2 linked regions of the Homo sapiens genome follow. The protein of the gene in region 2 interacts with the protein of the main gene of each other region in a pairwise test. Each region holds a gene or a part of one and is shown on either strand. Other genes may lie near its edges.

Region 1 (7,000 bases), on a different chromosome or scaffold from region 2:
TGGTTGGGAGAGGGCGCTTGGGAAGGATGTGCCACTGTCGGGAGGTTGTGAGTCACTGGGATGCCTCCAGGGATGATCCCTTCCATGGCTGCAGGAAGTCCTCCTGGAGCCACACCCACGATGCCTGGCGGATATCTAAGGAACACACAGAAATAGGGCCTTGTAAGTTCAGGGCAGAGTTGCCAAGCTCTTGGCTCTTCTACTTCTGGCCTTTTCATAAGAGACAGGAGCCCAGTGACATGAACATGGCTCACCTTGACCGACCTTCTGGGCTCAAGTGATCCCACCTCAGACACCCAAGTAGTGGCGACCACAGGCATGAGCCACCACGCCTAGCTAGTTTTTGTATTTTTTTGTAGAGATGCGGTTTTGCCAGACTGCCCAGGCTGGTCTCAAACTCTTGAGCTCAAGTGATGCCCCATCATAGGCCTCCCAGAGTCCTGGGAGTACAGGCGAGAGACACCAGGCCTGGCTAATAGTTTTTTTTTTTTTTTTTGAGATGGAGTCTCACTCTGTCGCCAGTCTGGAGTGCAGTGGCGTGAGCAATCTCAGCCCACTGCAACCTCTGCCTCCTGGGTTAAAGTGATTCTCCTGCCTCAGCCTCCCAAGTAGCTGGGACTACAGGTGTGCGCTACCACACCCGGCTAATTTTTATATTTTTAGTAGAGACGGGGTTTCACCACGTTGGCCAGGATGGTCTCAATCTCCCGACCTCGTGATCCGCCCGCCTCAGCCTCCCAAAGTGCTGGGATTACAGGCGTGAGCCACCATGCCCGGCCCTGGCTAACGATTTTTATGGGATAGTTTATCTTCCCTATCCCCAAAGCAAGGAGAAGTCTCAATTTTTATATAAAACACTGGCAACTAATTCATAAAAACAAAACTAGTCCAATCCAAACACGGGGCCACTAATTTTGTAGCTTTTAGATAAGAAGATATTAGCCCATACTATTTATGAATGTGGATACATTATACTATTTAAAAAAACCCACTTTGTACAAAATGGACTCCCAACTGTTCACCAGTTACTTCTGACTGATAAAATGATTTCCCAACAGAGTACAATGGACCCTTAGGGACTCAATGTTTGTCTCCCTCCATCCCCCTAATTCCAGTTCAAATCCCACACCTTAAAGGTGATGACCTTAAGAGGTAGAGCCCTTGGGAAGTGACTGGGTGAGGAAATGACTGGGTCATGAATGGGATCAGTGCCTTTACACAAGGGAGTCTAGTCAGTGCTCTGGCCCTCTCTCTGCCATATGAGGATGTGGGAAGAAGCTGACGGTCTGCTGCCTGGCCGTCACCAGAACCTGACCATGCTGGCAGCCTCATCTCAGACTTCCAGCCTCCAGAACTGCGAGCAAGGCATTTCTTTACAAGCCACCCAGTCTATGCTACTCAATTATGGCAGCCAGAACTCACTAAGCTTTCTAGGCTGGTTGGCTATATACTCCCATGGCCTGAGATGGGAAGTGGTATGCTTGCTGGCTGTTGGCTGGGGGCCCGCCTTCCTCGGAACGCCCAGGCTCGGGCTGGTTTTATATTGCAAGCACGAAGTGCTGTGTGAGGACACACTGCATTCGCCAACCACAGAACACAGGGTCCTCGGGCAAAGTGGGACTCAGTGTATTCACACAGACTTATCATCCATCCAGGTAGAGGAGGAGGCATCTCACTATGGTAGCCACCCCACCCCCAGCTCCTGGCCTGCCATCCTGTCACCAAGACCTTCAGAAGGACTCTGGTCATTAGGGTCCCTTCCTCAGTGCACACATACTGTTCTAGGGGGCCTAAGAGCCCCAGCTTACGTGAAGGATAAATAACAATGGAGACATGGAAGAGGTGGGCCCCCAGCTCCACCCAACAGGGGAATCTGGTGCTGTGATAGGCTCAAAATACTTTTGAGGGCCAAAAGGACGGGGCTGGATGAAATGTGAAGACAGCCATGTGACCTGCAAGCACCGGCATAGCTTCTTCAAGAGTGTCAGAGCCTTCATTACACAAACTGAATGCACCCTGGTCGTCACTGTGGCTACAGCAGGGGACATGTGGCTGGAGACATTCTCAATCATCATGAGTGGGAGTGGGAGGTGCTACTGGCATCCCGTGGGTAGAGGCCAGGGATGCCGCTGAACGTCCTACAATGCACAGGACAGGCCAGGCCTCCTACGAGAGAATGAAGAGAATGATCTGGCCCCAAATATACTTATTGCCAAGAGCTAGAAACCCTGGTTTAGAATATGCAAAAATTTTTCTTAAGATTCAAGGCTGCAACTTCATTCATTTATGCATGAGGGGGCTACTGATTTTCCTGGGAAGCCAGCAATAATGGGGGGGGGGGTGTGGGAGAAAACCGATTCGTGCATGGAAAATACCACAAAAGGAACCCCTTCTCCCTGTGAGGGCTCCTGTCTTTCCCCCACTCTGCGTTCCCAAACATGGCTCCAGTTTCTCAGCTGACCCAAACTACAGGTATCATTTTTAGTGTGTGGACAAGGTCATCATCCTGAGTTGATTGTACTATCCTGAGTTGACTGTACCAGAATGCCTTCTGTGGACATAAGATTCAAATTGGAAAATGAACTTGCTCACAGGCCTTTGCACTTGAACATCTTATCTACGTATACCTTTCTCTTTGAGAAGCCCTTTTTTTTTTTTTTTTTTTGGTGGTGGGGTGGGGTCGGGGGGTAGCAGCATTGTCTCACTCTGTGGCCTAGGCTGGAGTGCAGTGGGTGATCTCGGCTCACTGCAATCTCCACCTCCCAGCTTCAAGCACCTCTCCCACCTCAGCCTCCCTAGCAGCTGAGACTGCAGGTGTGCGCCACCACACGTGACTGGGAAGCCTTCTGGTTTTAAGATGGCTTTAGAATGAAAGGCAGTTCCTAGCACCTGTGGTCAATCACATCTGACCGAACACACCCCCTTTTAAAATAGGAGCTTCTGTTTGTTCCATGAAATTAGGCATTGGAAGAAATGGGGGCGGTGTACACAGTTCCTGCTGAGAAGGCTGATTGTTCTGACCCTGACTTAGCATCTGCGGGAGGTTAAGCTTCCGCCAAGTTTGGGCTTCTCTCCCTGGCCCCGGGGCCGTGGTGCTCACAAGCTGAGACAAAGTCAGTTCCTTTTCTCACCTGTATGTGGCACCATTGAGCTCAGGATGAATTGCTTGCTGGTCTATTACTGACCAAGGCGCTGATGTGACAAAGAATTCCTTGTTCACACAATTTCTTAAGCTTTCTGGGATGCGACCTAGGGTAAGATGATTAAAATTAATCATATTATTTTTACAAATCACAGTAAGTTCAACATTACACCTGTAGCTGCTTATGTGGGGAAATAAGCATTTGTAAAAATGTAGAACATCCAAAGGCCCAAGTGCTTGAGCTCTTCAACACTGACCTTCAGCCTCTGTGTGCCCCCCGACCCCCGAGTTTATAATGTCTGGGACTAAAGGGAATGGTTCCCTCTGTGAAGTTTAGTTCAGGGCTTACGTAAATAAACAGGGCCCAACTCATATAAATTTGATGCTAAAAGTGAATTCTACCTGTCGAGAGCTGCCTGTAGCCAGCAGGACAGGAGCCGGCTGCACTGTGGAGCTGAGGCTGCCCTTGGCAGGCCAGAGGCACGGAGGGGCTCACCTGTGATGGCTCGGCGGATCTCGGTGGCAGCTGCCTCCCTCATCTCCAGTGACGCCTGCTCACTGTACCAGGCAGTGTGAGGAGTGCAGATGAGATTCGGGGCATCTTTCAACGGACCCTGAGCAAAGCTAGAAAAATGTAGAAAAAACAGAGTAAGCGGGAAATGTCGCATACGCTCCCTGCCCTCCTCAGCACAAGGGAGCTCTTGGCCATGTAGAAAAGTAGCTACATAGATAGCATGGATACAGGAACATCTGTGATGATATTTTATGAAGGCTGGGAATTTTTGAATGTAATTATCAAAGTTGTGTAAGAACCGTATAATTGGTAGATCAAAAAGCCCAATTCTATTGAAGGCTTGTCCTGCTGTAATCCAGGGCAGAGATGATGCCTGTCTGTCTGAAGACCAGAACCACTGCCACACCCCCACCAATTTTCTGCCTCTCCTTTCCCTGATGACCTCTGGGAAACTTCCAGCCCTTTTACAATTAGAATACAGCACAATCCTTAGAAGAACAGAGACTGTAAATGTCATCTCTGGAGTTTCCTGCCCAGGGACCTGTTTGGGAAAAGGGCCTCGAGTTCAAAGTGTGGGGGTCAGGTGTGGAGCTGGGCCCTGTGGGCTCCTGGTAGGCGGCTGGGGCAACACGCACCTGAAGGGCTCTGACTCATGCACGTCGAGGGCTGCCCCTCGTATCCTGCCCTCCTTGAGGGCTTGTGCTAAGGCTTTCTCGTCCACCAGGCCGCCACGGGCTGCGTTCACAAGGAATGCTCCCTGCCTCATCTGTGGAAGGAAAGAAAAGCCGGTTACAGGCACACTGGCATGGTGGAAGACTCTTGTACCAAGGTTTAAAGAAGAAAGCTGCAAGCTAGTTTTGTTGGTCTGGTGGTTTAATGTGTGTGCTGCAGTTTGAGGGAAGGGAGTGGGAAGTGTTGGTGACGGCTGGAAGCCAGGGCCGTTGCTGCTGATCCTGAGAGGAAGCAACACGGTGGAAAGGCTGGACTGTGCCGAGCTGCTGGCCTCTTTAAAGGTTCTGGGAAGCTTCTGAAGCTGGGTCCTGGCTAGCGCCTGTCCTTCTCTGCTTAGCCTGGCTCAGCCCGAGGAAGGGGCTTCACGTGGCTTGTCACTGGTTTGTTGCAGGGCCTCTTCCCTGCTCAACAGTGTATCCAGAAACCACCTCCGTTGCCCTCCGTGTCCCTCTTGTGCCCACAAGCAAGTGCTACCACCTTTCGACAGAAGCTTCCATGGCATCTATTTTCAAATTACCTGCTTTATGGTAAAGTCATTGATGAGGTGGTGGTTATGTTCGTTGAGATTGCAGTGCAAGGAGACGCAGTCGCTCTGATACAGCAAATCCTGCAGGGTGTAGACCCTCTGCACGCCCAGGGACCGCTCGATCCCATCCTGCAAGTAGGGGTCATAAAATATGACGCTGAATCCAAAGGCCTTGGCTCGAACTGCAACCGCCTGCCCCGTGCGACCTGTACAGAAACAGAGCGTCCAGGTGAGTGAGTCCACAGCCCGCGCCCCAGCGCTGCCACCTCCATTGCTTCTGAGCTGAGTCCGGGCTTGGCATCCCCGCTGGTAGCTGCTGCCAGAGAAACCGTGTGCCCAAAGCTTAGTGAGGCCTGAGGCGAGCACTGCCCGCGAGGGGCCACCATGGCCGGTGTAGGACAGGTGAGGACCGCAGTGCTTGCTGCTTATATTGGGTACAGCAGGATTTTTGTTAAAAACAAAACAAAACCCTTCCTTGTTATTGACATTTTCAAACACAGAGTGTTCTGACAAGCCCACATGCCCCTCCCATCACCACCCGTGTCCTCCGTTCCCACCCCTCTCCCCACTTCTTGTGTGCACTGCAGGCTTCTTAACATGAGCTTTGTGTTTGAAAAACTTGCTCTCAATGTCACAGGGAGTAATGTCCTGCCTCCTCATTGCTGGGCTCGCTCCTGCAAAGGGTGACATGAGCACAATGGCTCCCTGCAGGCTGGCCCGAGTGCAGACTGGCCACATGCTACTGTGTTCTGGGCGGGAGGCAGGGCACATGACCATCAGACCTGGACCTGTCCCACTGGTGGGGCCTCGCGCCCATCTGCATTATGCAGCCTGGGCCTCCCGCCAGCTATGTCACAGGATGAGGAGGTGTCTCCCACTCCCCAACGGCTGTCATTTCATAAACCCATGGGGTCCCCCTCGATAGCACCTCCAGCTTCCCAGAGCAGTTTTCAGCATTTTGAAAACAAAATGGTTAGTGTTGATGCTCGACTGGTTCTCTTGGAGATCACAGAAGGAATCTTTAAAGCCATGGCTCCAAGGTGCAGGCAGGAGAAGGACAAAGATGCGCATTTCCGAGCAGGCAGCCTGTGTTCCAGGGGTACCTCAATGCTGGATGGCTCCTCCTGCAGCAGCTCCATCTAACCGATGGCCTGGCTAGGACAACTGCCGTAGTTTAGAACAAAGGTTGAATAAGGCCAGTCTGATCAGGGACAGCTGCAGGACAACTAGTATAGCAAGGCACGAACCATCACGCCTCTCCTCCTCAGTGTCACCCTTTACAGCAGGCAGGACTGGACGGTGGCAGGGACGGAGTGAGAGATGGCTCTCTGACGCACTGGCAACATGAAACTGAGGACCCCAGCATGCAACTGCTGGGAGCTCACACTTCACAGGACCCCCGCCTGCCTTCCCCCGTTCCTGCAGCCTCCATCCCCCTCATGGCGTCTGTGCACGAACATGCTTCAATCAGTGGGGCTCACACTCTGCAGATCCAGGGCCTGGAGGGCCTGTGGAAAAGCAGCCCAGAGCACCAAGCCCAGATTTGAACCGTGCCGACGGCTATTTCTTTGTTTTTTTTTTTTTTTTTTTTAAAGTTCACAAACCCCTTGAACTTTATCCATGAGATTTTCTGATGACCCAATGACTTAATCCTGCTACTGACTTAATCAAAACCCAGTCCCTACAGAAGAGACCTGCTCCCCCGTCACAGCGCCCCCCCCGGCCCCCCATGCCGCTTATTTTAAAAGCGCAGCTCCCACAGGCTGCCTTTCCTTCAGTTTCTGTCCATGCCCCCAGCCCCAGGCTGCCCTCTCTTGGCGGCACCGTCCCACCCCGCCTGCTGCACTGAGCCCGCTGGGCCTGGGGGACTCTTGCTCAGTAGAACCCGAGGCCAGCAAAAGCTCTTAGCCCAGGATGGCTGCAGCAGCGACAGTCCTGAAGGCTACAGAGACACCTGGAAAGGGAACAAGGAGAGCACGACAGTCCCTGTGCTGAGGATCCAGGGTGGTGGCGGCAGGGGTTAGTGTACAGTCTCGAGAAAACAGGGCGGCGGCAGGGGGCTGCACTGACCTCTATACACCGAGAG
Region 2 (7,138 bases):
TGGGCATGGGAACAGGAATGAACCCAACCAGATGAGATCACAGTTTCCCTTTTGTAAAACGCCTAGTGTTGGAGGAAGACAGTGAATACCTAAGTCACAACTGTAAACATAAATGGAGGAAGGGGCTTGGGGTCCCCATGACATCATCCCCCCTCTTTTAAGCTAGCTGAGGGCCCCCAGTCCCCAGCACAGTGTGAGAGAAGAAGCAGGGTGTCAGACACCTTCCTGGGCCTACGGGGAGCCAGGGGCCTTGGAAGATTAGGTTGGCGCACTCTGCTCAGGACTGAGAGCAACCACACCCCAGGGCCCAGCGAGGTCAGCTGTGTGCTCCCCAGATTGGAATCGTGCCCAGGCCAACAAGGGACATATCAGAAGGGGTCAGACCAGTGTCCCCGGGGTCTGGGTGTCAGAACTGGAGGACTGCTCCCCCTCTAGCGTCAGGTCACTTAAACGAGCGCTCAGCTCCGGGGGATACAGGAAGTCCGCGTAGTATCTTTAGAAGGGGTAGCAGGAATCCGGAGGACAGGGCGGGGAAGACAAGAAGAAGAAAAGACAGACAAGACACAGAAAAAGAAAGGAAAAGAGGCTCGTTAAAGAGGTGGAGGCAGGCACAGGACAGCACTTTCAGGCTCTGGGGCATGGAGAAAAAAGGAAGAAAACAGCAAGGGGCATGAGATGTCCCTTCCTCCCGGCACCCTGGCTTCAAGGCTCATCTTCAGCCTATAACTTGATAAAGAATTGCTGCTACCAGTGCCCAAGATCCCCTCCACCAGGACCCCATGGACTAATGCAGGTCATGTGCAGTAGAGTGACCCTGTGCCATCACAGCAGCTAGTTTCCTCATGGTCCAATTCATTAGCTATCATGACTAGCCACTCCCTGGCCTGGATATCTTCGCCATCTGCCTTACGAGACCCCTACCCATCAGTAAAAGCACCCCCCATACCTGCCAGAGACAGGGGGCGCCGTGAAACTCCTCGAGTGTGGGAGTGGCGCCTGGCTGGGGGCCCCGTACAGCGCCTGGCCCACCTCATAGCAGCGGGCATGGAGGAAGGGTGGGTGTGGCGGGCCCACGGAAGGGAGCACAGGCCGGCGCTGGGGCCCCGCAGCCAGTCCCGAGTTCCGGATGTACCAGTCCCGCAGCCCCTCCAGAGCCAGGTTCTTGTGGCCACTGCGTTCACCAGCCGAGGGGATACGGGTGGGTGGGGGCATCCACAGCAGAGGGTTTGGATGCACCTCAGGGCCTTCGGCAGCCTCTGGGGGCAGGCCACAGGGCTTAGTGCGGGTGGCACGGGTGTGGGGGTCCTTGGTGCGGAGGAGGGGGCTGTTGCTGTCAGCTGCATACACAGGTGGTGGGCCGGGGAGCATGGTGAGGAGCCCATCCCGGCGGGAGAGGGGTCCTGGGACCTCAGCTGCAGGCGGCAGCTCCCCCCAGCCTGTTCCACCGCCACTGCGGGGCAGGCCCCGGTCCAAGGAATAGTCCAAGAGGAAGTCTCCACACACAGGTGGGAGCCGGGGGGCACCTCGGGAGGCAGGGGCAGCTGAGCTAGGCCGGGCGGCCCGGGGAGGGTCTGGGGGGCCTGCTGTGCGGGAGGAGAAGGCAGGGGTTGGTTGGGGGCGCTCATACAGCACCTCACTGCTCTTGCAGACTGGGGGGCCAGAGGCAGAGGGAGCCAGAGGGGCAGGCGGGGAGCCAGCTCCCCCACCAGCGGCCCGGTCCACCAGCAGGGCCTCAGAACTGTTGCTGCGGCGGGTGCGAGCTACGAAGAGGGAGGCGCGATCGGAGGCAGGGTCCGCCCGGGGGAAGCCCATCTGGGAGTCCTGGCTGCCGGACCACTGACGAGAATGAAGGCCTTCAGGTCTGGGGTGAGAGGCGAGGGTCATGGGAATAGGGTCAGAAAAATCAGGCAGAAGGCGTGCAGTGCCCTCCCTACCCCAGCCCTTTCTAAGCCTTCACTTTCACATCTCCAAATGGGCCCAAGGTTGGAAGCTGTGTGTATAAAGGTGGCAGGTAGTGACATGTAAAGGGCAGCTGAGGTTCTATCCTAGGCTAGGCGGTCAGGGGTAGAAATGCGTGGGGGAGGCCTGGCACTGTTAGCTCCAAGGGAGGTGTAAATCTGTGTAGGGACTCAGAGGAAAGGCTAGCAGAGTAGATGCCGGGCAGGGGGCTGTTCCTAATCCAGCTGACCCCTCCCCCTGCTAAGGCCGTTCTCATGGCTCGCACGGCCTCCAGGATTAAGTCCTAGGCCTTAGGGCTCACATGTAAAACCCTGCCTGAATTCTCTATCCGACCATACGTATGAACCACCCAAAGCTACCATCCCAACAGCCACCGTTCACAGAATGCAAGCCCCACAAGGAAGGGGACTTGGTTTTGTTCAGAGCCTGGGGAAAGTAGGCACTCTGTTTAAGAAGCAGAAGAGGACAGTGGTTAAAAGCATGGACTCTAGAGTAAAACTTGCCTGGGCTCAAACTCCAGGACTTCAGTTTACTAACAAGTTACTTAACCTTTCTGTGCCTCACTTGCCTCATCTATAAAATGGGAATAACAATAGCACCCACCTCACAGGGATCTGATTATGATTAAATGAGTTGATGCCACGTAAAACACTAATTCCTAGCAGATGGCAGGCACTCAGTATATGTTAACCAGAACTTATTATGTCCATGTCTTTCAAAGGCAGATATTATTATTTCCATTTCACAAATGAGGAGACTGACTCCTACCCCATTATCCACCGAGATGCCTGCTCACCTTTAATGCCCAGCCTCCCATGTCCCACACCTTTTGTTTTTTTGTTTGTTTTGAGACGGAGTTTCGCTCTTGTCGCCCAGGCTGGAGTGCAATGGCACGATGTTGATCTCAGCTCACTGCAACCTCCGCCTCCCGGGTTCAAGCGATTCTCCTGCCTCAGCCTCCGAAGTAGCTGGGATTACAGGCATGCCCCACCATGCCCAGCTAATTTTTGTATTTTTAGTAGAGACAGGGTTTCACCATGTTGGTCAGGCTGGTCTTGAACCCCTGACCTCAAGTAACCCGCCCGCCTCGGCCTCCGAAAGTGCTGGGATTACAAGCGTGAGCCACCGCGCCCAGCCATCCCACCTTTTGATAATGTTGTCCTCAAGCTTCCAGTGAGAACTAATGGTTCCCTCCCCTCTGATCCTCCAGCCCACCCTCAGATTCCCCTTACTTGCAGAGCTGGGGGCCAGCGCCCCGGGTGAGGACAGGGGTGGCAGGCACACTTCGCCCCTCAAAACTGGAGGCACTCCTGGGCAGCGAGCGTGTGGGGCTAGACAGAGACAGGCAGGCCTAGGTTAGAGACTGTACCCACCAGCAGACCCTCTGCCAGCCCAGGCTTGCTATCCCATTCCCAGCTCCTGCGGAGGGGAGGAGGGGCTCATTCTCACCTGGTGGGGCTGGCCACAGAGTTCCGCCGGCTCTTCAGATCCCCATAAAGATCTGATGGAGGTGGTTTCCATGGGGTTCGCCGCTCAGGGCTCCCCCCAGATACTGCCCGCAGCTGGTCCCAAGCCTTGGGTGGTGAGGGGCGCTCGGCCAGAGAGAAGCAGCCATGGGGCTCCTCTGAGTGGAAGAGAGCAAGTGGGATAGAATTCAATGAGGGGGGCCCAGAGGGGGCAGGACAGGCTGGGGGGCAAGGCCATGGGGAGGGGCAAAGTGCTGGGACAGGTTAAGCAGGCTGAGGAGGAACTAAGGCTGACAAGTAGGTTCTGGGGCTGTGGGGCTGGGGTGGGGTGAGGCTAAGAAGATGGGGGACCCATAGGAAGATGGAGCATGGCTAAGGAGAAGCTGAAGCAGCACAGGAGGGGCTGGGCATCAAAGGATGGGCTGATCATGCAGGATGTGGTCGGATGAATAAAGGGGATGGGCTAAAGGGACGTAGGAGTCGGGGGCAGGTTTGGGGGATAGGAGTCCTCACCGTTGTCATGGCTGGCCCCAGACTCTGAGAGGGAGCTGCTCTCTGAGTGCAGAACTACGTCCTCTACAGGTGAGAGGGGGAGAAGTGGGCCTCTCACTCCCAGGCCTGGGTGCTGCCCCCTTACACCACTGGGTGGGCACCTCTACTTGGGCCACCTTCTGGCCAGTTTCCGCCTCATCCTGTTCCTGTCCCAAGAATCTGCTTTTACCAGAGCCCAAGACCACCCCAGTTTGGTTCCTGACTGTCCTGGCAGATATTCATCAGTCCCCCACAGTTTGTCCTTTCCGGTAAGCCAGTTTGTCACAACTCTTCTCACGGGTTGGGCCACTTGAGTTGTGCCTACCTCCCGGTTTTCACCGGCCAGTCACCCATCCCAGCCCTACCACGTCCATTTGCCAGTGTCCACTCTCCCACCCTCACCAGGGGATGCTCACCTTGGCTGAGCTGAGCAAGACGCATGCCCAGGCAGACTCCCTGGGTGGTGATCACTGACCCCGTGGACAGTGGCAGTGGCTGGGGCAGCGGGAGCACTGGGAGGCCAAGGCGGGCCCGGACATCCCTGAGCTGCTCCTCTAGCTCATGCAGCCTCCTCAGTGCATCTGCCTGGACCTGGCGCCGGCGCCGGCGCTGCTCGGTGCTCAGATCAGGGGCCAAGGCCAGGCGGCGGGCGGCCGCCGCGATCTGCTGTTGCACTGACACCTCGCGTTCCAGGGCCTCAAGAGCCAGCTCCTGTTGGGCCCACCCAAATGTTGGAAATGGCCAGGAACAGGGACCTGGCGGGGCCAAACCCAGTAGAGGCTGGCCTGCACTTCCTGCAGCCTATTCAGACCTATTCACCCCGGGGAGGGGGCGTGTCAGGGCCTCTCTTGGTGAAGGGCTGGGTCTGTTCATCTTCCTTAGGGTTGGAGGCCTGTCCTGACAGTTAGGGACCAGCATCCTCCCTCATCACAGGAAACTAACTCCAGAAGCCCTTTTCCTTCTCATCTTAGCCTCTCCCTCACCTGGCCACAAGCCCCCTCCCCACACCTTCCTCCTGGCTACTCCTCTGTACCTGTCCCCTCTTCCCACCCTCTTGCTCTCCACACCCATCTGCTCACCTCAGCAGGGCACAAGGAGTGGTGTGCTTGGTTGGGGTGCGGTGGAGGGTAGGCGCGGGCTGTGGGGGGCCGCCGGCGGACCAACTGGGGCCGTTCACCAGGCTCTAGTGGGCACTCAGGGGGCAGCTGGCCAGTCAGCTCCTGGTGGGAGGCAGGGGTCAGAGACTACCAAGGGTTAGTTGGAAGGATGGGGTGAAGCATTAATGATCCCAGAAGCTACAGAAGTCCTACCAGGAGCCTGGCCCTGCTCAGCAACCACGCACGATACTCCCCTCCCTCCTACCAGTATCTCCACTAGGCAGGTGTGCCCAAACCTCAGTGGCCCAAACCCCTGGGGTGGTGGGCATGGGAGGCAGGGAGACCTGCTTTGGAATCCAGAATTGTTTTGTTTTTATAAAGGTGATACCATCGAGATCCTAAGTATTATATAACTCACTTCAGGGGCTGTGGCTGCGTGGTCTGAGCTGTAGTATTATTTCCGGCACACTGTGGGCATTCACAGTAAGAGGGGTAAACTGAAACTACAGATCAGCCTGTGCCAGTTCAGGTCAGACTGTGCTGCCAAATTTTGGACAGAACCTGTTTTCTGAGGTTTGTTGGATTTGAAATTGTCAACAGTGGGCCTGTATTACCATATTTTTTTTTTTTGAGGTGGAGTTTTGCTCTTGTTGCCCAGGCTGGAGTGCAATGGCGCAATCTCAGCTCACCGCAACCTCCACCTCCAGGGTTTAAGCGATTCTCCTGCCTCAGCCTCCCAAGTTGCTAGGATCACCACACCCAGCTAATTTTGCTTTTTTTTTTTTTTTTTGAGACAGAGTCTTGCTCTGTCGCCCAGGCTGGAGTGCAGTGGCGCAATCTGGGCTCACTGCAAGCTCCGCCTCCCGGGTTCATGCCATTCTCCTGCCTCAGCCTCCCGAGTAGCTGGAACTATAGGTGCCCGCCACCACGCCTGACTAATTTTTTGTATTTTTAGTAGAGACGGGGTTACACCGTGTTAGCCAGGATGGTCTCGATCTCCTGACATCGTGTTCCGCCCACCTCGGCCTCCCAAAGTGCTGGGATTACAGGCGTGAGCCACCGCGCCCAGCCTAATTTTGCATTTTTAGTAGAGACGGGATTTCTCCATGTTGGTCAGGCTGGTCTGGAACTCCCGACCTCAGGTGATCCACCTGCCTCGGCCTCCCAAAGTGCTGGGATTACAGGCGTGAGCCACAGCGCCCAGCCTATTTCATTCATTCTAACACATCTAAGCTGAGCTTTGAGGAGAAAGTAGGTGACAGGGAATCTACAGCCAAGACAAGTGGTTGAGGAATTGCCACCCAAGTCTGTCTACCTAGGGGCCCCAGCTCCTCACCTCCTCCCAACCTCCCCGCCTGATACCCCTAGGGCCAGGCCCTCACCGCCTCCTGGAGACACACTTTGCGGAGCTCCTGAAGTTTCAGGCTCAGGGCCTCCTGCAGGGTCCGCTGCCGGTCAAGCAGCCCCCGCAGACGCTCTGACTTCACCTGGGGGGCAGCCTCTCCGAACAGGGCAGCTGGACACAGAGGGAGCAAAGATCAGTGGGACAGCCAGGGCATTCTGGAGCAGCTGTGGGGCAAGGGACCAACTCTTCCCGAGCAAGCAGGTGGTGATTCAGAGCAGGGGAGGAGGCAGCAGGAGGGGAAGCAGCCACCGACCTGGGGCATTGAAGGTAGGAGAGCTGATCAGCTGACCTTTGACTTCCATCTTGGTGCTGTCGAGAGGCCGTGGCTGATGGCTGGACAAAGTCTGGCAGTGACACAAAGGAGCCGTTAAGGAAGCACATCCCATGATACCCCAACCCCCAGCCCTTCCCAGCTTCCCATGCCACAGCGGGGAATAAGGGGTAACCTGGGCCCCACGTGCCTGCTTGACCTGCCCTTTCAGAATCCGTGTGGATGTCTGGACCCACTTGGCCCTGGTACCTTGGTTCCCTTCGCATTGAGTGAGAGCACAGCAAGTGGGGAGCTGGGCGGACTTACAACGCCTCCTCAGAGGCCCATGGGTCACAGCCACGAGTCTTGCCTGGGGAAGGAGAATTAATGGGACAGATTCAACCAACTATAACAACAATGGACACGCAGT

What was found. The genes of interacting proteins can lie anywhere in the genome.
Region 1: the proteins of CCDC120 (region 2) and CTBP2 interact in binary tests that used the Homo sapiens proteins (3 or more experiments, as listed by UniProt).

Annotation. Positions count from the first base shown.
Region 1 is NC_000010.11:124,989,564-124,996,563, forward strand, and holds part of CTBP2 (C-terminal-binding protein 2), read right to left. Parts: intron 5,121-7,000; coding exon 4,906-5,120; intron 4,423-4,905; coding exon 4,292-4,422; intron 3,767-4,291; coding exon 3,639-3,766; intron 3,250-3,638; coding exon 3,132-3,249; intron 136-3,131; coding exon 1-135. UniProt on the Homo sapiens protein: Corepressor targeting diverse transcription regulators. Functions in brown adipose tissue (BAT) differentiation. Isoform 2 probably acts as a scaffold for specialized synapses.
Region 2 is NC_000023.11:49,061,899-49,069,036, reverse strand, and holds part of CCDC120 (coiled-coil domain-containing protein 120), read right to left. Parts: intron 7,079-7,138; 5' UTR 6,996-7,078; coding exon 6,933-6,995; exon of another isoform or gene 6,920-6,932; intron 6,803-6,919; coding exon 6,712-6,802; intron 6,570-6,711; coding exon 6,436-6,569; intron 5,177-6,435; coding exon 5,036-5,176; intron 4,668-5,035; coding exon 4,373-4,667; intron 4,002-4,372; coding exon 3,939-4,001; intron 3,584-3,938; coding exon 3,409-3,583; intron 3,291-3,408; coding exon 3,192-3,290; intron 1,862-3,191; coding exon 947-1,861; coding exon of another isoform or gene 925-946; exon of another isoform or gene 494-924; coding exon 379-493; 3' UTR 1-378. UniProt on the Homo sapiens protein: Centriolar protein required for centriole subdistal appendage assembly and microtubule anchoring in interphase cells. Together with CCDC68, cooperate with subdistal appendage components ODF2, NIN and CEP170 for hierarchical subdistal appendage assembly.